Linked DNA regions of Homo sapiens. The protein of the gene in region 1 purifies or fractionates together with the protein of each later gene. This does not show direct contact. Each region holds a gene or a part of one and is shown in the gene's direction. Other genes may lie near its edges.

Region 1 (6,259 bases):
ACAGAATGAAACTCTCAGAAACAAAAAGGAATATAACCTGTGTCATTGTCCAAGATGGAATGTTAAGATTAGAAAACATTAAAAAATTAGGAAAATAAAAATGTATAAAACACTGAAAAAGGGAGAAGACATATTTTAAAGAAGGAATTTTCTGTTCGTATATTCCACAGAAATCTACTAAAGAAGAAAATTAGCTCTTGTATTTGAATTGCTGATAATGGGAGTAGATGATGCTTAATTCATTCTACAGAGAATTCCCATGGTTTGTGCCTAGGGATACCAAGTACTTTTTATCTTTAAAGTATGAGTTTGAGGGAAGGGTAGGGAGAATACACTTGACCAGTTCTATAAATGATGAGAGAAGAAGCAGACTCTCTCATGTTTCAAATGGTACCAAAGAATATACAGATTTTTTAACTCAGGAGGATTCAAGAAATATTAACAGTGAGGCTTACTGAGAAGTGGTATCTATTTGGCAAATTTTATTTTATTATTATTATTTTTTTTTTGAGACGGAGTTGCTCTTATTGCCCAGGCTGGAGTGCAGTGGTGTGATCTCCGCTCACTGCAACGTCTGTCTCCAGGTTCAAGCAATTCCCCTGCCTCAGCCTCCTGAGTAGCTGGGATTACAGCTGTGCACCACCACACCCGGCTAATTTTTGTATTTTTAGTAGAGACAGGGTTTCACCATGTTGGCCAGGCTGGTCTCGAACTCCTGACCTCAGGTGATCCACCCGCCTCGGCTTCCCAGAGTGCTGGGATTACAGGAGTGAGCTACCGTTCCCAGCTATTTGGCAAATTTTAAAATGTATTCAGTGGATGCTTGTTTAGATTGACCATGTCACTAATTCAGAGGCACATTGAATGACAACCGTGTGCCAGACATGTGCTTGGTGCTAGGATCACAAAGATCATTTAAAAAGCAGTCCCTTATGCCCCTCACTCACTCAGAGAAATGGTATGTCTAGCCTGTAACTGCCAGCACAGGTGCTAAATAGTATATCAGTGCTGTGACCAACGTCAGGGAGCTGTTGGCGTGGCCAAAAGAAGGAAGCCTTTACAGAGGGGATGATGCCTCTGCTGAATGGTCCCTGTAGGAACCCTTGTCAGTTGACTGAGTGCTAGATGCTTTGTATACATTATTTCATTTTAATCCTCATGACTCTGGGATACCTATTGGGATCCCACTAGATGGATCAGGAAACTATTAAAATCATTCCCAAAGTGGTGCAACTGTGAAGTGCAGGGCCAGGATTTGGAGCTGGTCTCTGATTCCAGACCCTGTATTCTTTCAGCTTATCTTGCTCACTCCACGTTAATATTCCCCACGTGGGAAGAGGCATGCTAGGTAAAAAGAAGGCACCGCCCAGAGGGGCAGAGGATCCGTTCTAGAACAGTGTTGTCACATTGTCTGGTGGTAAGAGCAGCATTGGTGGTAAGGGCTCAAGGTAGGCTGTGGCCACAGTGCCAGGGTGGCAGAGGAAGTAGGAAGTAGGACTTTGGCGTCAGAACTGGTTTTGAAGAACTTAGTCAATTGCTGATGCTAAGTGGATGAACCTGAACTCTTGCAAGCGGTCTGACCTTGCACACATTCCTTAAACTCTGCTCTCTAGTTGCTTAATCTTGACAGATGGAGAAATGGGGAAAATGCCTGCTTCCTGGGGTTGTAGAATTAAAGTATTTAAAGTACTTATTGTCCTGCATGGTATGTAGTAGGCATTTGGTAAATGTTAGATTAGTACTTTTATTTTTGTTGTTTTTATTGTTAACACAAGATGTTTGGTGTCACAAGGGTTTGGTCTTTGTGCCGAAGGCCTGAAGAGTATTTGCAGGTTTTAAATACAGGAGCATGTGATAAGACCTGTGTGTGTGTGTGTGTTTTGGGTTTTGGTGTTTTTTTTTTTGAGACGGAGTTTCACTCTTGTTGCCCAGGTGGGAGTGCAATGGCGCGATCTCGGCTCACCGCAACCTCTGCTTCTCAGGTTCAAGCAATTCTCCTGCCTCAGCCTCCCGAGTAGCTGGGATTACAGGCATGCACCACCATGCCAGGCTAATTTTGTGTTTTTAGTAGAGATGGGATTTCTCCATGTTGGTCAGGCTGTCTCGAATTCCCGACCTCAGGTGATCCACTGGCCTCGGCCTCCCAAAGTGCTGGGATTACAGGCGTGAGCCACCGCGCCTGGCCAAAACCTGTGATTTAGAGAGCTCTGGTGACTGCGATGCTGGATTAGAAGGAGGAGCTAAGGACTAGAGGTTGTAGAGTAATTAGTGGAAGATGATGAGGGCCTGACCTAGGCTGGTACAGTGGTAATAAAAAAAAGAAATGGATGTCACTGCACGATAGAATAGACAGGACTTGGTGACCAGCGGAGTGTGTGGGAAGGTTGAGGGTGAGGAGACCGGAAGAGTCTCTGCAGAGTCTCTCGAGGATGCACAGGTGGATGGTGGTGCCTTCCGCTGAGATAGGACATCTGGGAGGATGAGCAGAGCCGATTTGGGGTGGAAGGCAATGATTTTAGGCTTGAAGTACCGAGTCGCGGGTGCCTGGAGTATATCCAGAGGGCAGAAAGCAAGTTACATCAAAGGGGTAACGAAGGTGAATGCTTCCCGAGGCCGGGTAGGTGATGTCAACAGGTCAGACTGAAGCAGACAGATGATCATTTTACCTGTGAGTCAGGTCAGGCTCCTTTCTGAAACGCCCGGATGGCTTCCCATTGCACTTACGTCAATTCCGCATTTCTTTCCATGGCCTGCAAGGTCTGATTTGAATTGGCCCTGCTTTTTTTTCCCACCTCATTTACTACACATTTTTCTCTCTGACTGTGTTCCAGCCACAGTGATCTTAGTGATTTTCAAGCATATCAAATTTGTTCCTGTGTCAGAGCCCCCTTCTCCCTGGCCAAGCCCTCGCCACCAGATGTTCTCCCACTGGTTCCTCATCAGGTAGCTCGTAGCTTGCCTGGTATCTCAAGGAAGCCTTCCTGCCTATACCGCCGCATCTGAAGAGGTTACTGTGTCCACCCTGTCTTGGGTTTTTTTCCATAGCACTTGTCACTACCTGAAATACTTATGTGCTATCTCCCTCCTTCCATTCATTCCATGAGGCCACAAGTGTGTTTTGCTCATCAGTATCTCTCATTGCCTAGCGTAGTGTTGGGCATGTTCCACAGCATGGAGAGCCAGTGCTTCTGGGCATTGCAGTAGGTACCAGTGAGAAAAAAGGGGAAAATCTGCATATTGAGTATTTATTAAAAAAAAAAAAAAAAAGGAGCCAAATGAGGAAGACAGGAGGAAGTTAAATGAGAGAGGAGACCAGCTATGATCATGACAGGGAAGTCAGTGGTAAGGTATCGCAGAGTGGTTGTCAGAGGGTCATCAAAGATTTGGCCCTGCTTGGGGTAATTGAAGTGTGCTAGCGAATCTAATTAGTCCTTGCGGTCAAGTTGCTGTGGGGTCAGCGAGATGGAAGGGTCACAGAACACTGACTTCAAAGGAGCAAATCCAGAGGGCCTGTGTGAGAGGAGTCTGATTGGGAGGCTCGTTCCTTTCACTCCAAATTACTTATCCTTTCAATCCCTTGACTTCCACAGGAAGCTCTTTTGAGGCCGGAAGCTCTTTTCAGGTGTTGCTCTCTGAAGATTTCTTTGAGCAGTTTTAGTCTTTATATTTTAGAAAAGATGAATCTCCAATGTAAAGTTGGGCAATTGATTCCAAGTCGGAAGCTTTAGGGATTGAAATGATAGTTCTAGTGAGGGTGGGTACCTGCTTTTTAACCTGGTGGGACTTGCAGCCGACTCAATACCTGGGCTTTCTGAACATTTCCTCGCGGCTTTCCTTTATCTGGAAGCGTTGGGACTTTTCGCCACGCATTGAGACTTTTCGGTTTTTCAGGCTTCTGCTTCAGTTTACCCAACCTCAGCAAACATCGTTTGCTTTGGAGAGGAACTTAAGGACTCAGCAGGAAATTGAAGATAAAATGAAAGGGTTCAGCTTCAAAGAAGACACTTTGCTGTTGATAGCTGAGGTGAGTGTATCCCTCGGGTTTATGTGAAACGAAGCATCATAGATATTTTCCCTGGCTCTGATAGCATTTTTTATAAAGCAGGGCCAAATTTAATCTACTGAAGGACTTGTCTCCCTCCTCTGTGTGCCTTTTGATCACTCAGCAATCACCAAGGCGGCCTCTTGATCGGCATTCCCCTGCAGCGTGCGGGACCGCAGGGGCTGTGTTTCATGTACTTGTCAGTGCTTGTTAGCACCTGCCTGCCTGAACATCATCAATGCCCAATAATTGTTTGTTTCAGTGCTGAATAAATGAATGAATGAATGCTTACATTTGTGTAGCAGTTCTATTTTTTTTCCTCCATTCATCATAACAGCTTGTGAAGTTGAGTAGAGCTAGAATTGAGGCTCAGAGAACTTGTGACTTGCCTGCGGTCAGATTTTCAGTGGGAGAGCTGGTCTGGAGCTTGTGTTTGCCAGCTGCAAGTCCATTTTATTCCTGCTCTACCCTGTTACTACTTTGATGGTTGCATAGAAATTCAAAGGTAATTTTTTTTAAACTAACATGTAAACCTTCATTAACTTTTTTTTTTTTTTGAGACAGAGTCTTGCTTTGTCTCCCAGGCTGGAGTGCAGTGGCACGATCTCGGCTCACTGCAACCTCTACCTCTTGGGTTCAAGCGATTCTCATGTCTCAGCCTCCCGAGTAGCTGGGATCACAGGCATGTGCCACCACGCCCTGCTAATTTTTGTATTTTTAGTAGAGACAGGGTTCACCATGTTGGCCAGTCTGTCTTGAACTCCTGGCCTCAAGCAATCTACCCACCTCGGCCTCCCAAAGTGCTGGGATTACAGGCCTGGGCCACCATGCCTGATCTCTTCCTTTTACTTCTGAGAGGCTACACTGGTTTGTTTTTCTCCTGTGTTTCTTAACGTTCCTCTGCCTCTTGGGACTCAGCTGGTTTCTTCTGTAGCGTAAGTAATGGCATGCTAAAGATTCCCTTGGCCTCTCTGTTTTCTACTTTTCTGTCACAGAAATCATCACCACACCCCTAGGTTCCATTGTCACCTCTGGGTTGATTACTCTCCAGTCTTTATCTCTAGTCTCATCTCTGGGACATGTGTCTCACATCAGATTAATTGCCTACTAGGTGGTTAACCTGGGATAATTATTGATTACTCTTCTGTCACTTCAAGTACAAAATGTCTAAAATGGAACTACTCATCAGAACACTTCCTGTAATCTCAGCACTTTGGGAGGCCAAGGTGGGTGGATCACTTGAGGTCAGGAGCTCAAGACCAGCCTGGCCAACATGGTGAAACCCCATCTCTACTAAAAATACAAAAAACTAGCCGGTTGAGGTGGCAGGCACCTGTAATCCCAGCTACTCGGGAGGCTAAGGCGGGAGAATTGCTTGAACCCGGGAGGTGGAGGTTGCAGTGAGCCGAGATTGTGTCACTGCACTACAGCCTGGGCAACAGAGGGAGACTCCATCTCAAAAAACAAAACACAAAAAAACACTTCTGATCAGTCTTTTAATTCTCCCAAGTTCCACATCCTCCAGGAAGCTTTTCCGGAATATTCTGCTCTGTGGTCATTTCTCCTTCCTCTGAGCTCAGATAGTGATTGCTTGAATAGATAGCTCTTTGGGCCCTAAGAAGACATAAGAATGTATCTTATGTTTTCAACTAGATACTAGGTTCCTTATAAGTAATAGTATGTTTTGAGCATCTTTGTATTCTTCACCATGCTCGATAAATCTGTTGGTTGGGTGGAAGAGTAGTTTCCTGTGTAGACAATGCATGTGATATACCAGTGGAGCTTTTTAAAAAGATGGAAAATGTCTGGGCCCTCGTTAGGATTGTAATTAGGATTATAATGTACATTTTGTTTTGTGCTTATTTTTATTTTTTAAAAGGTCTCATTCTGTTACTCAGGCTAGGCTGCAGTGCATAATCTTAGCTCACTGCAGCCTGAAATTCCTAGGCTCAAGTGGTCCTTTCACCTCAGCCTCCCAAGTTCGTAGGATTACAGGCACCCACCACCATGTCCAGCTAATTTTAAAATTTTTTGTAGAGGCAGGGTCTTGCTATGTTGCCCAGTCTGGTCCCAAACTCCTGGCCTCAAATGATCGTCCCGCCTTGGCCTCCCTAAGTGCTAGGATTATAGATGTGAGCCACCATGCCTGGCCTTTATTTTGTGCTTTTAATTTTAGTTGACTTGTAATAACATAGCCCTGTATCCTTAAATATTCTA
Region 2 (6,163 bases), on another chromosome or scaffold:
CCCCTGTTGACAGATGTTTAAATTGTGTTTATTATTTTTCTGTCACAAATAATGCTGCAGTGATTTGTATATATATCTTTATATTCTTGAAATGGACCTAGTAAGTCAGAGGCTTTGTGAATTTTCAGTTTTGGTAGATTTTACCATATTGCCCTCCTAAAAGGTTATACCAGTTTATACTCCTGATTACAGTGTGACACTGCTTGATTTTCCATATCTCCAATATTGATTATTATCAGAATTCTTAATTTGTTCTACTCCTATTACTTTAAAAATGACTTTTTTTTTTTGTATTTCTTTACTTTTGAGTGAACTTATACATCACTTTGTAAGTTTATAGGTCCTTTAATTTTTTTTCTGGTAATTGTCTATATCTGCCCCAGTCCACCTTTAAAAAAAAAAAAAAAAAGAATCTTTTCCTCTTAGATTCATGGGTAATTTAGTTAAGAAAATTAGCTCTTTGTCATATGTATAGCAAAATATGAAGAAAATATGTTTGGTTACTTGCAAAACCTAGGGAAGGGAAAACACTGTGGTAGAAATGAAAGAGGAAAGAAAAGTATACAAATGCTCTATCTCATTTGAATATACTGGCCAGTAGTGTGCTGGTGAATGTTTAACAACTTGCTCTCTGGTCGTGGAAGGAGTACGATTTATAGCGATTCCTGCTATCCATAGTGTAAGTACTCCAACCATGGCCAGTTTCAAGCTACTGATGTGACATCACTGAATGGGAAAGGAAGAATAGTGGCACACCATTATATGTAGGAATTCCACCATACAGATACAAAATACATTATTAACCTCAAGAGCATAGACATTGATAAATATATAAAATAATTAGCAAGTGGTGAGTTTTGGATATTTGTTACCTTTATTTTTAATATATTTAATTGTAAGTTTACATAATTTTATTTTTAATATTGGTTTTAACAACTGGTGCACAGAATTCTTGAAAATTTAATAATCAGATCTTGAGAGCCAGAACAAACAAGCCAGCTTCAGTGCCGTCATTCATACTGGCCTACTTGCATGTCTCTGTCTTAATATATTCCTTCCCTTTTCATCCTTTTTTTTGTAACCCCATCAAAAAAACCTGGGAAAGAAATTTAAAATACTTTGTCTATGATTAATCCTCTTAGTTTAGTTTGCAAGTTTCAAATTTAACTGGTTGATTTGAAGTATTAAGATTCCTCTTTATATATACTTTAAATTTCTTCCATTTTTCCTTTGGTCATTTGTATTAAAATTTTTGCATACAGTTATAAAGTTAGTATATGACATGTTTAATAATTACTTGGAAAAACACAGGTACCGTCTCACATTTTGGGTGGAATTTATGCCTAATTGTATGACTTTAATTTTCCTAGTTTTTCACTAAAGATGTCATCGTACCCTCTCCTTGGACTGATCATGAAGGGAAACAGCTTTCACAATGTCATTCCAGTAAATGTGAGTGTACTAAAAATGATATGAATAAAAATCAAAAAAGTCGGTGAATATAAAGCAACATATCATGAAGTGCCAGTATATCTGCTTTGTAAGAAGCTTGCTTTAAAATTCTGGATAACATAGAATTTAACTCCTTTTAGGGTTAGAATTAAAAATTTGACTAAAATTTATTGAATTGTTTTTTAGCTGTTATACTCTGAATTTAACTTTTTCTTCATGACTATTGTGAATGTCAGTTATAATGATGGTTATAGAGGATCCATAGATGAAGAAATAGTTGGTATTGAATATAGAGATGAGTTGTTAATGACTTTAGCAGTATTTTGAAGGTTAATATTTTAGATAAAACCGTAAATTGTGTTGCCTTTTGCTAATTTGCTGATTTCTTATAAAGGTAAAGAAAGGATGAAGACTTAATATGACCTCTGGGACAGTGTATTATTGCTGAGTATCTGCAAAATTAATAAGGAAATTAAAGGGCAAGCCAGTAAGCTAACAATTATCTTTCTACCTCCAGGCAATGGTTGTCATATATTTGTTCTCACTGCTCTTTGGGTTGTGAGGCAGTATTCAGGAATCACTTGTATATATGCATCCCTCATCACAGTGGAATTACACTGTCTATTGTAGTATACCTTAATTATGCTCTCAGTATAAGAGGGAATGTTTGTTCCATTCTTTATCAAAAAACACAACATAATAATACAACAATAATAGGTAAGCTGGGTTAGTACTTTCTCTATGCCAGGACAGTGCTAAGTGCTTTCAGTAATTTCTTATAACTCATATGAAGTAGGTGTAATTATTGGCCCCATTTTATAGGTAAGAAAACCTAGTTTTAGAAAGATGAGAGCATTTGTCCAGGGTTACAGAGATGATAAAAGTGGGAAAACCTGAATTCAAAATTCTCAAATCAGATGCTGTATTCTTAGCCATTATGAATTAGTGGTAGCACGCAATAGTAGATGGAAATCTGGATTGTAAAACCTCCTACTTTTATAAACCAGAGAGGTGACCTTGATCAAATTATTCTCTTTGTACCTCAGTCTTTTATTTGTGAAATAAAAGGATTGAACTAGAGTTGTCCATTTACATCCCCCCAGCTCTAAAATTGTGTGTCCAAGGTGGCATTCTCATAGATACTAGTTTTTCACCCCCAGATTCTTTACTGTTGGATTTTTTCAACAGATGAATCAACCTTCTTAAGTGATTTTTTAAATAACATTTTTGTATTCCAAGTATCCTGTTTTAGTTCAAGTGATGCAGGATCAAGAAGATGCTTAAAAACACTTTAGACTCTTTGAAATCTAATCAAGCCCACGATAACAGTGCAGTGGTTAATAGGATAGGCTCCAGAGCTGTGCTGTTTACTGTGTTGTTGGGAGACAATTCTCCATAGGCCTCACATTTCTGCACACCTTTCATGAAGTGGCATGGACAAGTTCTGTTCCAAACTATCTTTTCTAGGGTGTTTGTCTTGGAAGGTAGAGATAGTGTGTCCCACCAGAGCAGAGGGTAAGTTTGTTTTGCTGTCCAGTATAGTAAAGATGATGTCTCCCTCTGGAGCAGATTTGTTTGCAGTCTCTCTTAAAAGAATGGGATTTCCTAAGCTTGGGGTTCCTTAGCTATGGTGAAAACCCATTGTGTGTCCACCAGCCACCTGGGTATTTTAATTTAGAATCTTTTAAGATAGAGAGCACTCCTCCCATGATTAGGAGAGACACAAGATGGAAATAAAAATTTTATTACTTACAAGTCCTAGGGGTACACAGCATACCTGAACACCACACAGGGAGGTCAGGAAGAGAGAGAAAGGGACCCATGGGCCAACGCCTTTATTGGGTCCAGGGCATTATCCAAACAGAGTTTTAGTTGGTGGGTTTAAAGCAAGCAGGCATGCATTGAGGAGGTCACACAGTGACTGAGAGATAGTCACTGTGGCATGTCTGTGTAGTCCATGTGCGGTATGAGGGTTGGGGGGTCAGTCAGGTAGGCCATATGTAGATGGCCCATAGGGAGGTGGTTACCAGGAGGAATTTATATAAGGCAGATATCTGGATCAACCACATTGAGGTATAGAACTGGAAACTGTGTCGGGTGAATGAGCCCTGCTTTTTGTATGAGAAAGTCCAGCTTGTATGCAGAATTATAAGAATTCACTGCACTGGACTGTTTCATGTCATCTTCTTGGCACTTGGGAGCAAAGGGAATTAATAGGAATGTTAAGTTCATGCTGCCTGCTGTGCTGAAAATAATAAAGTCCTTTATCTCTGCCCCCAGAAGCCTCATGTCTTTAGCCAGCACCAATGGAACTTTGACATGTTCACCTGTTAGTTGCCAAGTTGGGTAGAATCTTAGACCCTTTATAGTTCTTGACAGTTGTGGCCACGTGTGACTATTTAAATTTAAAGTTAAATTTAAAAATGGAGTTCCCCATTCACAATATTCACATTTCAGGTGCTCAATAGCCATGTGGATATCGAGTAGTATAGATAGAGAACATTCCCATCATCACAGAAAATGTTCTATTGGATGCTACTTTAGGGCCAAGGTTGGCAGCCCTTAAGTGTAAAGGATTCAATAATAAATACTTAAGCCTTTACTGACCACACAACCTCTGTTGGAACCACTCCACTCTACTGCTGTACCACAAAAGTAGCCGCTGACAATATGTAAATGAATGTGAGTGTGTACCAGTAAAACTGTATTTAAAAAAATAGGTGAAAGGCCAGATTTGCACCATGAACAATAGTTTGCTGACCCTTACTCTAGTGTAATATTATCTAGGTTTGAATTGTACCCAGTAAAGCTCACTAGCTGTGTGACTTTAGATGAGTTACTTAGCTTTTCTGTGCCTCAGTTTCCTTATCTATAAAATGATGGTTATTGTGGTACCTCTAAGATAATGTACCTAGCACATGGTGTTTGGTTATCTACCTAAAGATTAACAAATAAAATGGTGAATGAGGGGAAAAGTGGTTTTGTTTATACATGTTAGCTTGTGCTGGTAGCATTTACTATTATTAATATTTATGCAGCAAGGTGCTTCAGTGCATATCCTCATGTGTTTTTATTTATGGACTTGAGTGAGAATTTCCCTGGGATATATACGCAGGTAGAGGATTTCTGAGTTATAGAATATATCGTTACCTAATCTGACTACACAGTATTAGAGTGCTCTCTAGAATATCTGCACAGTCTGCACAGCCCCAGCAGTCCCTAGGGTTCCTGTGTCCCAGCATCCCTGCCTGCCCTTGGCATTATCCAGCTTTTACATCTTTGCCTTTCCTATAGGTTATTTGACATTCTAAATGATTGTTTCAGTTTTCTTTTTGTCTTCATAGACTAATGACCTTTTACATTTCATAGAAAATGTCTATTTGTAATTCATTGATATGTTTCAATTGGAGTTGCTAACCTTTTTTTTCCTGTTAATTTCTAAGATACCTTACATATTGTGGTTATATTGGTCTTAAACATTTCAAATGTTATCTCCCATTCTGTCATATGTATGTTACTCTTTGTTCTTGATATCCTGGGTTGCATAGAAATTTTTATTTTGGTGCAGTCAAATCCATCGATTTTTTTTTTTCCTCATTTGATTGTGGTCTTAAACTTGTCTAAGCCCTTCTAGGGGAAGCAACCAAAACACTTGGAATAGAGTTGAAAAGTGATGTGATAATGTTGCTGTAGGTGTCTTTCTGGTCTGAGGAAGGCAAGGAAGGCATGCTGGCAGAAGATAAAATTTAAGCTGAGATTTGAGTTAGACTCTTGGAATGCAGGGGAGAAAAGGCAGGGAGGAGAGAGCATAAGATAATACCTAGAGATGAGAGAGATACCTGTTTCTTGTTTGTTTGTTTTAGGTACTCAAATAATATTTAATTAGATGGCAACCATGCTAGAGAAATAGACATGGTTTTGAAAGGCTTTGTAAGCCATTGAGGTGTTTGGATTTTATCCTAAAGACTATTGCAGGGTTTTAGGCAGAGAGAGTATTGATTACATCTGCCTTATAGAAGGTCACTCTGCATGCAGTGACAAAGTCATCTGCATCCAAAATTTTCTTTATTTACCCGTTTTGATAGTATTTCACAGGGAAATTTAATTTATTCAGCAACCCACTTACCCATTTTAAAATTTAGAATTGTTAGGTTACTACACTCTATTTTGTCATTTTATTTTAGAATTCCTGAGTTGTTTCTGGTTTTGGGGGGAGGGGGGGTTTGTTTGGTCCCCTTGCTTTTTCTTCCTTTTATCTTACTTATATTAGTCTTTTTGAGATGGTTTTGGTTTTTGAGTTTTTTTAATCTGGTGATTTTTCAATTTATAAAACTTTAGAGTTAAAATAATTTGCACCCATATTTTTAACTCTTCTTGTGAAAGAAACTATATGGTTTTATTGATCAAATTTCAGGTTTTGTCAAAATAATCTGGCATTTTAATCTGTTGAGGACATTGAGGGTAGCTAAAAGGTATCCCTAACCTTTTAAGGTTGACGTCATGAAGAGTAATCATCATTTCCTTAAAAAAAAAACATTACTTTGGGATTCATCAGTCCTACTACTGGGTATTTATCCAAAGGAACCAAAATTACTATTTCAAAGAGATACCTGCACTCTCATATTTATTGCTGCATCGTTAATCACAACAGCCAAGATATGGAGTCAACCTAAGTGTCCATCAACAGATGAATGGACTTTTTAAAATGTGA
Region 3 (6,163 bases), on another chromosome or scaffold:
GTATTCTGTTCACTAATGTTTTATAAAAAGGCAGAAATTTTCTGGCTTTCTGGGGAACCACGTAACTCAAATGAGTTTGCAGCTCGTTTTCTATTCCAATTATTGCACTAAAGAGGTTCTTATACTAAGATTATCATTCTTTTTTAAGCTATCAAGTATGATCTATACATGTCAGTAAAATATAAATATTAATACTGGTACAATGTTAAATTGGGATTATTCCTAATTAATGCACAAAATGCTGAAATGGTTTCAGCCATGCTTAAGATTTGGGGCGAAATATATTTCAGAATAAATTTACTCATATAATTTTTTATTGAAAAAAATGATACGGTAGCCATTACTCAATCTTTTAATATTTTTCCTGAGATTTTATTCATTTAGTAGGAATTTAGTGACTACTTACTATTTAACTATTGTCACAAAATCACCAAAACATTTGTTTGTAAGAGTATCCTCTTGTCCTCAGCTCTGCATAGATACTTTTAAAGCATTAGCGCAGTTATTCCAACTAAGCTATTGAGTATTATTTACATTTAACAGATGAAAAAACTGAAGCTTGAAGAATTTAAGGAAATTAATTCAGTTCTTTTCGACTCTTCCCACTGTACAACAGCTGCAAGGATCTGTGCTCTATCCTGAAATATATAAAGAGCGTTAAATCAACATATGCTTACTGAGCAGCTATTCATACCAGACACTCTTCAAGGTGCTGGGGATATAGAGTGAACAAGAAAAGTCCCTGCTCTTAGGGAGCTTATACTCTAGCAGAATGTATGAGATGTAAACTTTCCCTTCAAGAAGCAGAAAATATAGTCAATATGTATTAGATTTTACGGGAGTGTTTTAGAATGTTAAAGGTGAGAAGAGAGATAACTAGGGAATGTTTCATGAAGATGAGATCTAATGTGGAATTTAAATAGTGGTTAGGGATTGGTAGGTAGAAATTAGGACCCTGTCTCAAAAAAAAAAAAAACAAGTGAAAATCTGTGATATAGAATAATTGGTGAGCCTTATAAAGCACTTTATTTTTATTTTTTGGACTATATATAAGTAAAATTGTAATATTTGACATGCATTCAATCATTTAGCATTTATTTATTAACTAGACACTCTTCTAGGCCACAGTGGTATAGTAGTGAGTAAATACGGTGTTTACCCTCATAGAATTTACTAACAGAGGAGGCAGACATAAATCAAATAGTCAAAGAAATTTAAAGTTACAACTGTGGTAAATGCTATTAAAAAAGGACTTGATGTTACACAGAGGAAGAACTGATTACAGAGGGGATAAGAGTGGGGATGGGGAGAGGCCAGTTAGAAGATTGTTGGAGTGGCCCAATTGAGAGATGGTATTTTGGACAAGGTGGTGGTGGTAAGATGGATTCCAGAGGTGTTCAGGAGGTGGAACTAGGCGATGGATTAGATATGGAAGGTGAGGGAGAGGAAGATATCATGGGCTAATCTTAGGTTTTTGGCTTATATAACTGGAAGGATTGTTGCACCCTTCACCGAGGTAGAGAACATCGAAAGAGGACCAGGTTTGGGAAACATGCTTTGTTTATTAGTATTTTTTGTTGTGGTAGCAGTGTTTAAGGTTAATTTCTTAGTTATTTTTACCCTTTTGTGTCATTGTTGTAGTTTTGTATATTTGAGTAATACTATGCCTAAAATAGGTTTTTTTGGTATCATTTTTTCTTGATTGAGCAGGGGTGGGGTTCTACATGAAAGCATCTGGAAATATGTTGGTCTCTGTTTTGAATCTATCTGTAATATATTAAACCATGTATATGAATAGGTAACTGAATAATGCAGTTACATGCCATCTTTATTTTCACTTGAGATTTGGTAGTAAACTGGCATCTGGTTAAATTCTAACTTCATTCATTTGGTACATACATAAATATACATGCATTAGGGAAAAATACATACTTGTGATTTTTCTCTGAAATGCTTCATTCATGTAATTTTTGATAGATATTGAACCCAAACAGTAGTGATTTATAGTTTATTGTTTAAATTTTACATTTCTTAGTAAAGTGGTAGAGTGTATAGAGCAAAGAGACTTTGGTGTCAGACTGCCTGGATTCATGGTCTCTATTTGCTGTATACTAGCAGTATGACCTTGAAGAAGTTATACAGCTTTTCCAAGCCTTTTTTTTTTTAAATTTATAAGATGAGGATAATAATAGTGCCAGCCTTATAGAATTGTTGTGAGAATTAAATGAAATGATATATATACATAGGTTAATAAAATACTTGGTACAGATTTTAAGTGTTTATTATCATTATTATAATAGTGATACTGGGTTCAAGATCATCTTGACTCCTGTGACACCATTTTAATTTTAGGATACCTTGTAACTAATAAAACTCAATTTGAGAAAAAAAATTTATTTGGTATTTAGATTTGGAGAAAATATATAAAATAGTTTTGCTTATTCACTATTGTCCCAGATACACCAGCACATAACATCTTTCACAGAGTTCTGAGATTATGTGTAGTTTACAGCTGTGATAGAAAACTTATGGTGATTAGTTTGTGATTACTTATTGTTTGTTAGGATTATTACCTTTATTTTTAGCCAAACCTTTTCGAAGTTTGAACTTGCTTTTAGCTCTTATTGAATAGGGTGAAGAGTAGTTAGGCTTTATGAAGTCTGATCAGCTGCTCTAAAATCAACCTAACTTCTACTTTTTCCCTTATTTTTTTCTTTTTACTTTCAAACCTGTAAAAACATTGAAATGGTAGTATGACAAATACCTGTACATCCTTTTACCTAGATTCACTAGTTGTTAACATAGTGCCTCTTTTGCTCTCATTCCTTGCTGTTAGACAAGTGCTGTTTCTCTCTCTATAAATACACACACACACACACACACACACACACACCTTTTTTTCTTGCTGAACTATTTGAAAGTAAGGTGGCAACGTGACACTTTACCCCCAAATAATTCATCATGCATCTCCTAAGAACTAGCACATTCTCTTATATAACTATAATGCCATTAGCATATCCAAATAATTTAACCTTGATATGATAATATTGTCTAATATGCAGTCCATATTCAACAATTAGATTTTTCCAAATATCCCAGTAATGTCATTATACCATTACAAAAATACCGAATCCAATTAAAGACATTAATTGTATTTAGTACTTATATGTCTATTTTATCTAGAACAGTCTTTATCATTTCTTTCTTTTTTTGTCTTCAGGTAGAATGCCTCACAAAATTGATTTATCTGATTTTTTCCTCACAATGAGTTTCAGATTGAAGAGTTGTGGGTTTTTCTTTTTTTTTCTTTTTTCTTTTTTTTACTATTACATGGGTGATGTTTTGAACTTTCCATTTAATCATATTAGGATTAACATGATCGTTTATTCCATTATTGGTGATTAAGTTTGATCACTTAGTTTAGCCAGATTTTTATATTCCGAAAGTATGTTTTCCCTTTTGTATTTAGTAATCTGTAGGGGTGATAAATTGAGGTCATGTGGATATTCTGTTTTGCAGGTTTTGTTTTCCTATCCAGTGATTTTAGTAGCCATTGATAAAAGCATTGGTGGTTGCCAAATAGTGATTTCCCACTTCTGTCATTCCTACATGTATTTGCTGGCTCTCTTCTCTAAATAAGAGCTTTCTCTTTTTTATTTTAGTATCACTATGTACCCAAGTATCCTTTTTTTCAAAATCTATGCAGTGCGTTATAATTTGCTACCATCATTCCTTTTGGTGATGAAATTATCTCAAATCTGGTCAGTAGTAGATCCTTCAAGCTGGTTCCCATGAACTTTGGATATGTCCACATTGGTGTTTGAGCACTTTCTTACTCCTATTTGCACAATAAGATGTTCCAGCCTCACCTTGTAAATTTCCTGCTCAATACATGGAATCAGCCATTTTACCACAGAGTCCTGGTTTATTTTAGTGGAAAATGATTCTTAGAAACCAAGATCTGGGCCGGGCGTGGTGGCTCATGCCTGTAATCCCAGCACTTTGGGAGGCCGAGGCGGGTGGATCATGAGGTCAGGAGATCGGGACCATCCTGGCTAACACGGTGAAACCCCATCTCTACTAAAAAATAAAAAAACAAATGAGCCGGGCGTGGTGGCGGGCGCCTGTAGTCCCAGTTACTAGGGAGGCTGAGGCAGGAGAATGGCGTAAACCCGGGAGGCGGAGCTTGGAGTGATCCGAGTTCGCGCCACTGCACTCCAGCCTGGGCGACAGAGCGAGACTCCGTCTCAAAAAAAAAGAAATAAAAGAAATGAAGATCTGGGTATTGAATATGCTCTTTGCTACTGGGGTGTCATTGGTTCTAGACCCTTTAAATGGACACACATATACACTTTTTTTTTTTTTGAGACAGTGTCTTGCTCTTGTTGCCCAGGCTGGAGTGCAATGGCGGATCTTGGCTCACCGCAACCTCTGCCTCCTGGGTTCAAGCGATTCTCCTGCCTCAGCCTCCCGAGTAGCTGGGATCACAGATATGTGCCACCACACCCAGCTAGTTTTGTATTTTTAGTAGAGACAGAGTTTCTCCATGTTTGTCAGGCTGGTCTCGAACTCCGGACCTCCGGTAATCCACCCGCCTCGGCCTCCCAAAGTGCTGGGATTACAGGCGTGAGCCACTGTACCCGGCCAACATATACATTTTTTAAGAAATCATGAGTTCATAGGATACCTTCAATTCAAATTCAACACTGCAGAGTTCTCATCACTTCCTTCCAATTCCTGTTTATATCTCTGTTTTCCCAAAGAGAGAATTCTGATTCTCAATTATATCACTATTTTTACTCATCTAACCTATCCTACAACACACATAAAATAGTTTTGGAATTACTAGACTGACTGATACCGCTTCCAGCAACAGATTTACCAAGTAAAGATTTCTTTGCCATTTTATGTTCTTAGAATATATCCCACTAAAGGTATATATAGTCAAAATAGGTGTTCAAAGTTATTTGAATTATTTTTTCTGTGTGATTATGTTATGAATGTAAAATATAGTTAGGTTCCTACTAAATTACTTTTTAATATACTCTTTGTAAAATCAGTTATCTGTAAAACTACTAAAGTGACATAATTTAAAACTTTGTAATATATAGTTATAGAGAACTCTAGAACAGTTATATCAGCTGGAGAATATTAAGTTTTAAGACTTGTAAGCTCTAAACTTGTAGCTCTATTTTTTCAGTTATAATGATATTTAAAATTAGGAGTGCAAGAAAAGTGACATCAAGTGATTCCATTTGTAAACCAAAACAATTGTGTTTGTGAACATTTTAAACAATGCTCTTCTTTTAACTGATGATACAATTCAAGCATTAATCTTTAACAATAGACATAATTGTTGGGGGTACTTTAACTAATTCCCAAGTAATAGGTCTAATGTTTTCCTGTATTTATAACCAGAATGGAAAGATTTATGTTTTTTGTTAAGTCCTTCTTTGTATTTGAAGAATACTTGTTGTGACTGTATTTTACCCTGTGATATTATTCATGTGTGAATATTCTCATTGGAAAGGGGGAAAATATGTCTCTTAATAGTTATGATACTTTATATCTCTATTGTGAGATATAACCACATTCAGCCTTATGGTTAGTTATAACCATTTTGCTTATTAGAATGTAAGATTAATGAGGGCAGATACTGGGTTTCATGGCTCATTGTATCTCCCTCAGTGCCTTGTAGGAGTAACCACTCAAATACTTGATGAATAAATGTGATATTTTGTGTTTAAATTACATGTAGTACTAGCTTCAGTAATATGGATGCACCTTTTTCTTGGCAAGAGTAACTAATATAATGGGTCTTGGAAATGGTCTTATCCATTGTCGTAGTCTGTCTTTCATTGCTTATAACAGAATAACTGAAACTGGGTAATTTATGTAAAAAAGGAATTTATTCCTTATAGTTAACAAAAGCTGAAAAGTCCAAGGTTGAGGAGCTACATTTGGTGAGGGCCTTCTTGCTGGTGGGGATTCTGCAGAGTCCTGAGGTGGTGCAGGGCATCACATGGTGAAGGAGCTAAACACACTAGCTCCAGTCTCACTTTCTCTTCTTGTAAAGCCACCAGTTCCACTCCTCTGATAACCTGTTAATCCATTAATCCATGAGTGAATTAATTTATTTATGAGGGCAGAACCCCAGTTACCC
Region 4 (6,163 bases), on another chromosome or scaffold:
CCTGACTCGCGTCAGTGGGTCTCTGGCCTCTGCGGCTTCACTCTTTGCGCCCTGAGGGTTGGGTGTCCCAGCAACCCAGAGCTTCTATCCTGGCTGGGTGGCCCGAGGGTCCCGCTTGCCGCCTCCTGCCTTTGGTCCCACGCGATGAGGGCCCATTTACCCCCTGCCCGCGCGTGCCTCCTGCCATGGGCTTGGTTTCTGGGGTCGTGGGGATTCCAGCAGCTCCTGGCGCCTCACCCGCCCCCTCGCCGTGTCCTGCAGAAGTTTGACGAGCTCCTGCACCTGGCCTCGAGGGGCCAGCACAGCAATGTGGACATGCTGGTGCGGGACGTCTACGGCGGCGCCCACCAGACTCTCGGGCTGAGCGGGAACCTCATCGCCAGCAGCTTCGGGAAGTCGGCCACCGCCGACCAAGGTGCTCACCCCGGCCTCTGCCGCCAGAGAGCAGGATGGTGGGGACACTTGGGGTCTCACGGACAGGAGCTTCCCCCACCATTGCTTTCCCACAACTGCTCCCTGGAGAGTCGGGGTCTTGGGTGTCAGCCCTGTAACCTCTTCCTGCCGAGTCGCTGCAGCTCAGGCCCACTGCTCAGAACGTCGGCAGATAAACGCCACGGTCTTGGTTTTGGAAGAAAAAATAGTTTCCTGATTGGGTTTTTTCCTCCTTCAAAACAAAGCTTAATCCGTCCAGGAATGATTCACACATCACACGCAGCCTCCCGCACTTGGGCTCCAGTTCCCCCACTCAGCTCTCTCTCCCCCTCCCCTCCCACTCAGCTCTCTCTCCCCCTCCCCTCCCACTCAGCTCTCTCTCCCCCTCCCCTCCTGCTCGCTCTCATGTCGTGCACTTGCTGTACTTGGAGATGAGTGCCTTTTCCTTCCCTTCCTCAGAGTTCTCCAAAGAAGACATGGCGAAGAGCCTGCTGCACATGATCAGCAACGACATTGGGCAGCTGGCCTGCCTCCACGCACGGCTGCACAGCCTGGACCGCGTGTACTTTGGAGGCTTCTTTATCCGGGGCCACCCCGTGACCATGCGCACCATCACCTATAGCATCAACTTCTTCTCCAAGGTAACGGATGCGCCGCCCTCCCCAGCCTCTAACGCAGACCCCCCAGGATCTTCCCAATCAGTCATGCTGGTTAGACACCGCAGCACCCCCAGGGAGGCCTGGAGGGTGGGGGCCAAGAAGCCCAGCACCCCTCCCTTCTGACTGATTCTGGGCAGCCTACATTTTGTGGCACCGTGGCCACCTGAGTTTGAGTACATCACCAGTGATGAGCATTCTAGAGAGCTCCAGGCAGGCCTGCTGATCTGCGCTGGGGTCAGGGTGCCCCTGCCCCCGCAGAGGCACGCCCACCCACATGCCTGACGCAGAGACTTGTGGGCCAGGGACTCGCTGCATGGGAGAAGCTATCTCACCCTTAGCTTTCTTCAAACAGCAGCCCGCCCTCTGGTGCCAGGCGCGATTCCACTGGCAAGTATGCCGTGGGTGCCATGGCGCCTCTTCGAGGGTTTGGGCCGCGCGGTGCGAGGCCCGCGCACGTTGAGCTGGTTTGCGGAGGCACCGGGTGTTGTGTGGGGCCAACAGCAGCACGTGTGCTTTGGCCACGGCAGGGGGAAGTGCAGGCGCTGTTTCTGAGGCACGAAGGCTACCTGGGAGCCATCGGAGCGTTCCTGAAAGGAGCTGAGCAGGACAGTGAGTCGCGGTGCTGGCGCCCCTGAGCAGCGTGGGGCCTCAGCTGTGGCCTGGGCCTGTGCTCCAGGCCAGGGCGGCCCAGGGTGGAGGTGGGGTGGGGAGCGTGAGTCCTCAGAAAGTGACAGCAGCAGGCATGTCTAACATTTTAACAATTTAGTTAATAAGCGATTTTATACCCTTTCCTCCTCCACTCTCCTGCTTTTGAATCAAGGGCAAGGTTAACACAAGTGACCTGGCTTCTTGCTTTCCAGATCCTAACCAGTACAGCTGGGGAGAGAACTATGCAGGCAGCTCCGGGCTGATGAGTGCATCACCCGAGCTCGGCCCGGCGCAGCGGGCGCGGAGTGGCACTGTGAGTAGTGGGCTCTGGCCGCCCCGGGCCCCAGGGGAGCAGCCTATGCCGCACTCACCTCGCCTGTCCCTGAGCGAAGCCTCTTGTGGCTGTCCCGGCTGAAAGGCGCCTCTGCCCATGGCGAATCCTCCCATGGACCTGGGGTATAACTAGGGGCAAGAGAAGGACACTGTGGCTTGCTTTCCCATCTCCCTCATTGGGTGCTTTCGTATTTTGGAAACATTCAGCAGGAATTACGGAGTCTGTGTGATCCGGCCTTCTTGTTTGCAGAGAGATTGCTAAAGTTCAGGGGTGACGGGGACCTCTCCCCACGCCAGAAGGCCCGTCCACTTTGGAGTTGAAACCCGAAACCGCAGGAGCCACCCAGGGCCCTGCCTAGGACTGCGCGCTCTGCCGCACACTGCCGCGCACTGTGGCTGATGGTCTGTCGGTTACAGTCTGCTCTCCTCGGGGTGTCCCGGCTCATTCCTTGGATCCCCAGTGGGTTTGCCCTGGCCTGAGCTGGGTGGCACTGGCGGGCTAGGAGACGCACCCCATGTCTGCCGAGTTGGAGCTGCTCCGGAAGGGTCCCCCGCCAGGACCTGCGTCAGCCACGGGATGCCCCCAGCACAGCCCCACATGGCAGGAACCGCCCCGTGTCACAGGCTGTCAGGGTCCTCGACCGTGCCCCCCCGCGGGGCTCATTCCTTCTGTAGCTGTGAGCAGTTAACCTGAGGTCACGCACAAAGCTAGTCGGACCCCTCAGGACAGGCCGCTGGCATTGTTGGCAGGAAGTTGCTTGTCATTTGTAGACATGGGGTTCAGTGTCAGTATTTTCAAGACCGCGACTTGTTGAGTTTTGGCTTCTCAGGAGGGCGCCTCCCTTTTGTGTGGGTCCTGCAGTTCACACCAGGCCACGGCCTCGCACAGACGCACCACACTGGCCGCAGCCCTGGTCTGCCTTTCCCACCGCCAGCACTAGGCAGGGGAGTGGGGGCGAGGCTCTGGGGGCCTGGCAGAGCCCCAGGCTCTCAGCTTTTGCCCTGCTGTTGGGCAGAGGGGCTTGGTGTCTTCCAGCCTCAGTTTCTGATTTGCCAAGTGTGCATAATTTGCCAAATGTCCTGGACTGTAACCTGGAGTGACTGCGTGGACGGCCACAGTGCTTCGGGGGCCCCGTTCAGGAGGCGCTTGTTACCTATTTGGTACCCCACCAGTGGCACAGCCCTGCCAGGCAGGAGGGGCCCCCACCTTACTGAGGATCAAACTGACATGCAGAGAGATGGAGTCATTTATTTCAGTTTATATTGTCCAAAAAAGTCAAAGCGAAGATTTGAACCCATTTGTCAGGATAGAAGGAGCCTGCGACCTGGCAAGGCAGCACCAGGCGATCCCGGCTGTGGTCCGTGGTAGTTAAGGTGGGGCTCCTGCCGCCTTCTGCACTGGCTTTGGGAAGTCACTGGCTTTTTCCACGTGGAGCTTCTGCCCGGCATGGGCTTCCCACCTGGAAGGCGTCCCCTTTGCTCTGGAGGTCCCTGCCCACCCAGAGGCTGCTTCTCCAGCCCCAGGGGTTGCCAGCAGGGGTGCCCCAGTGGAGAAGGGCAGAGGGCCAGCATGTGACCTGTGGGGTAGCCACCGGAGGGTGGGAAGAGGCGGTCAGCTACACAGTTCCCCTCATAGCCCCTCTGGTCCCAGAGCAGCGGCTGCTGCGGTGAGCGTGCAGAGAGCCGAGTACTGATGTGTGCGTCGGCTCAGTTCAGTTCACTTCCTCCCGGCATAAGGTAGAAAAAGCCAGCAGGGCCCGTGAGCGCGCCTGTGCTGGGTGCAGGTGGCCCCGGGGTGCCCTGGGTGCATAATGGCCTGGCCCTGCCATAGTCCTTCATGGACAGAACGTGCTGGGAGGCCCGGCAGCCATGGAGGAAGAAGGGTGCATGTGGGGCGTGGGGACTCCCTGCCCGGCACGGAGTGGAACACTGCCTGGTGCTTAGTGAGGACAGAACCCCAAACCTCTGTGTGCAGACACGGCCACCTGGAGGACCAGAGGTGGGAACAGTGTGACTGCAGGGGTCACGGGAGGAGGTGAAACTGTAGGGGTGACAGGGAGGGGTGACTGCAGGGAGGTGGTGATGGGGGAGGGAGTTACTATAGGGATGGTGGAGGAGGGGTGATGGGAGGGTGACTGCAGCGGTGATTGGGGAGGTGTGGCTGCAGCGGGGAGGTGCTGGGGGCAGGAGGCGTGTGGTGGGAGCAGACGCAACCCCAGTGTCAAACCAGGGGGTAAGTCAAGGTATCCGGCTCAGGCCGCCGGGCAGCTGAGGGGGCCCAGTGGGGGTCTCGTCTGTGGCCCAGAGACGTGGCGGAAGAAGGCAGTACATCTCCCTTCTTAGAGAGAGAGTGGAAGCTTCTGAGTGTGGCTTGGGTCGTTCTGAACCATGGTGACGTTTCCACCCTGCCACTGCCTGTCTTCCAGTTTGACTTGCTGGAAATGGACCGGCTGGAGAGGCCACTGGTTGACCTGCCGCTCCTCCTGGACCCGCCCTCCTACGTGCCCGACACGGTGGACCTCACCGATGACGCTCTGGCCCGAAAATACTGGCTCACCTGCTTTGAGGAGGCCCTGGACGGGGTGAGGGCTCCGGGTGCCGTCTAGACGATTCCAAGGCCGCAGCCGGGTTAACCTTCCAAGGCTCCGGGGGCAAAGCCAAGGTGGCGAAGGGGGACAGGCCAGTGTTGTCCAGAAACCCCTTGATCTGCGTCTGAGTGAGGGGGCGATTTTGGTTTCTCAGGCAAAAATACCGCTCCTGGCCACCTGGTGGGTCAGTGAGGACGTGGCGTCTGCGAGGCACGTTGCTTCTAAGGGCAGCTGATAGTTCTGCTAGCTAGCACATTCCTTCAAAAAGCAATTTAGGAGACGTCTCTGCTCTTTTGAGGTGTGACTGAGGTGCGGGAGGCATTGTGGGACCCTGACTCTGGGGGTGGGGTGAGACTCAGCCCCAGCAAGCTCCCGGCGAGGCCACCTTGGGACTCCTGCGTCCCACCTTCTCCAAGGCTGGGCTGGTCCCGTGGAGCAAATGCCAGGCCCTGGGCCACGCTGCCCCTCAGGAGCTCAGCTCGGGGCCAGGGAGCCCCGGTAGCAACACGCACTCTTCACGAAGCCCTCGGAGAGGCCGGGTCGTGCCAGGGTTTGTCCTGAGGGAGGAGTCCCAGCCCTGCCCAGGACCCGGAGTGAGCTCTGAGTGCCCAGAGCCCCTCGTCCCCGGCACAGGATGGGGGCTCGAGTCTGAGGACGTGGGTCTTGGCCTCGGGTTTCCTGGGGGGTGAGGGACCAAGGTCACTCCTGCTCCTGCCTCCCAGGGCAACTGGGAGGGGCGAATGGCAAAGGGAAGCCTCGGGTGACCGTGAACTGTCACCGTCAGCCTTTCCTGTTCCAGTAGAAACTGCCCTGACCACAGCCCAGGCAGCCCCCACCCTGCCCGAGTCCCCCACAGCAGGCCCTGACCCTGCCCCGGGAAGCCCCCCATAGCTAGCCCCCACCCTGCCCCAAACAGCCCCCGACAGCCGGCTCCCACCCTGCACCAGGCCTCCTACAGCCGCCCCCACCCTGCCCCAGACAGTCCCCCACGGCCGACCCCCACCCTTCCCCGAGCCCCCTGCTGTCACGTGGGGATTCGCAAGCAGCAGGGCCAGCGCTTGACTAACCCCCTCCTTCTGTCGCTGGCAGGTAGTGAAGCGCGCAGTGGCGAGCCAGCCAGACTCTGTGGATGCAGCCGAGAGGGCGGAGAAGTTCCGGCAGAAGTACTGGAACAAGCTTCAGACCCTGAGGCAGCAGCCCTTGTAAGTGCCCAGCACCCCGGTGTGTGGCCACCTCTTCCATCCAGAGGGCCCCTGCACCTCTGAGAAAGTGCCGTGATGTTGGCATTCGGACCCCAGCTCGCTGGGGGTGGGTGTGGGCCCTGGCGGCACAGCCCCCTTGGACCCCGCCTCAAGCAGCGTTTGCACTGCCGGGCTCCTGAGGACGTCCGTGGCACAGCCGAGGATGGCAGACGGGCGGGTGTTCGGCCTGCCCTGCTCAGCGCCCTCTGCCGTGTCTGTCCCCAGCGCCTATGGGACCCTGACCGTGCGCAGCCTGCTGGAC

What was found.
Region 2: the proteins of ZHX1-C8orf76 (region 1) and BORA purify together in Homo sapiens (affinity purification with mass spectrometry; one large-scale study listed by BioGRID and IntAct). This does not show direct contact.
Region 3: the proteins of ZHX1-C8orf76 (region 1) and ATG4C purify together in Homo sapiens (affinity purification with mass spectrometry; one large-scale study listed by BioGRID and IntAct). This does not show direct contact.
Region 4: the proteins of ZHX1-C8orf76 (region 1) and PANK4 purify together in Homo sapiens (affinity purification with mass spectrometry; one large-scale study listed by BioGRID and IntAct). This does not show direct contact.

Annotation. Positions count from the first base shown.
Region 1 is NC_000008.11:123,224,265-123,230,523, reverse strand, and holds the end of ZHX1-C8orf76 (zinc fingers and homeoboxes protein 1), read left to right. Parts: intron 1-3,891; coding exon 3,892-4,051; 3' UTR 4,052-4,333; downstream 4,334-6,259. Other genes in the region: uncharacterized protein C8orf76, read left to right, coding at 3,892-4,024.
Region 2 is NC_000013.11:72,736,592-72,742,754, forward strand, and holds part of BORA (protein aurora borealis), read left to right. Parts: intron 1-1,370; coding exon 1,371-1,452; intron 1,453-6,163. UniProt on the Homo sapiens protein: Required for the activation of AURKA at the onset of mitosis.
Region 3 is NC_000001.11:62,785,568-62,791,730, forward strand, and holds part of ATG4C (cysteine protease ATG4C), read left to right. Parts: intron 1-6,163. UniProt on the Homo sapiens protein: Cysteine protease that plays a key role in autophagy by mediating both proteolytic activation and delipidation of ATG8 family proteins.
Region 4 is NC_000001.11:2,514,053-2,520,215, reverse strand, and holds part of PANK4 (4'-phosphopantetheine phosphatase), read left to right. Parts: intron 1-261; coding exon 262-415; intron 416-891; coding exon 892-1,073; intron 1,074-1,618; coding exon 1,619-1,700; intron 1,701-1,951; coding exon 1,952-2,052; intron 2,053-2,322; coding exon of another isoform or gene 2,323-2,334; exon of another isoform or gene 2,335-4,138; intron 4,139-4,498; coding exon 4,499-4,654; intron 4,655-5,749; coding exon 5,750-5,862; intron 5,863-6,126; coding exon 6,127-6,163. UniProt on the Homo sapiens protein: Phosphatase which shows a preference for 4'-phosphopantetheine and its oxidatively damaged forms (sulfonate or S-sulfonate), providing strong indirect evidence that the phosphatase activity pre-empts damage in the coenzyme A (CoA) pathway.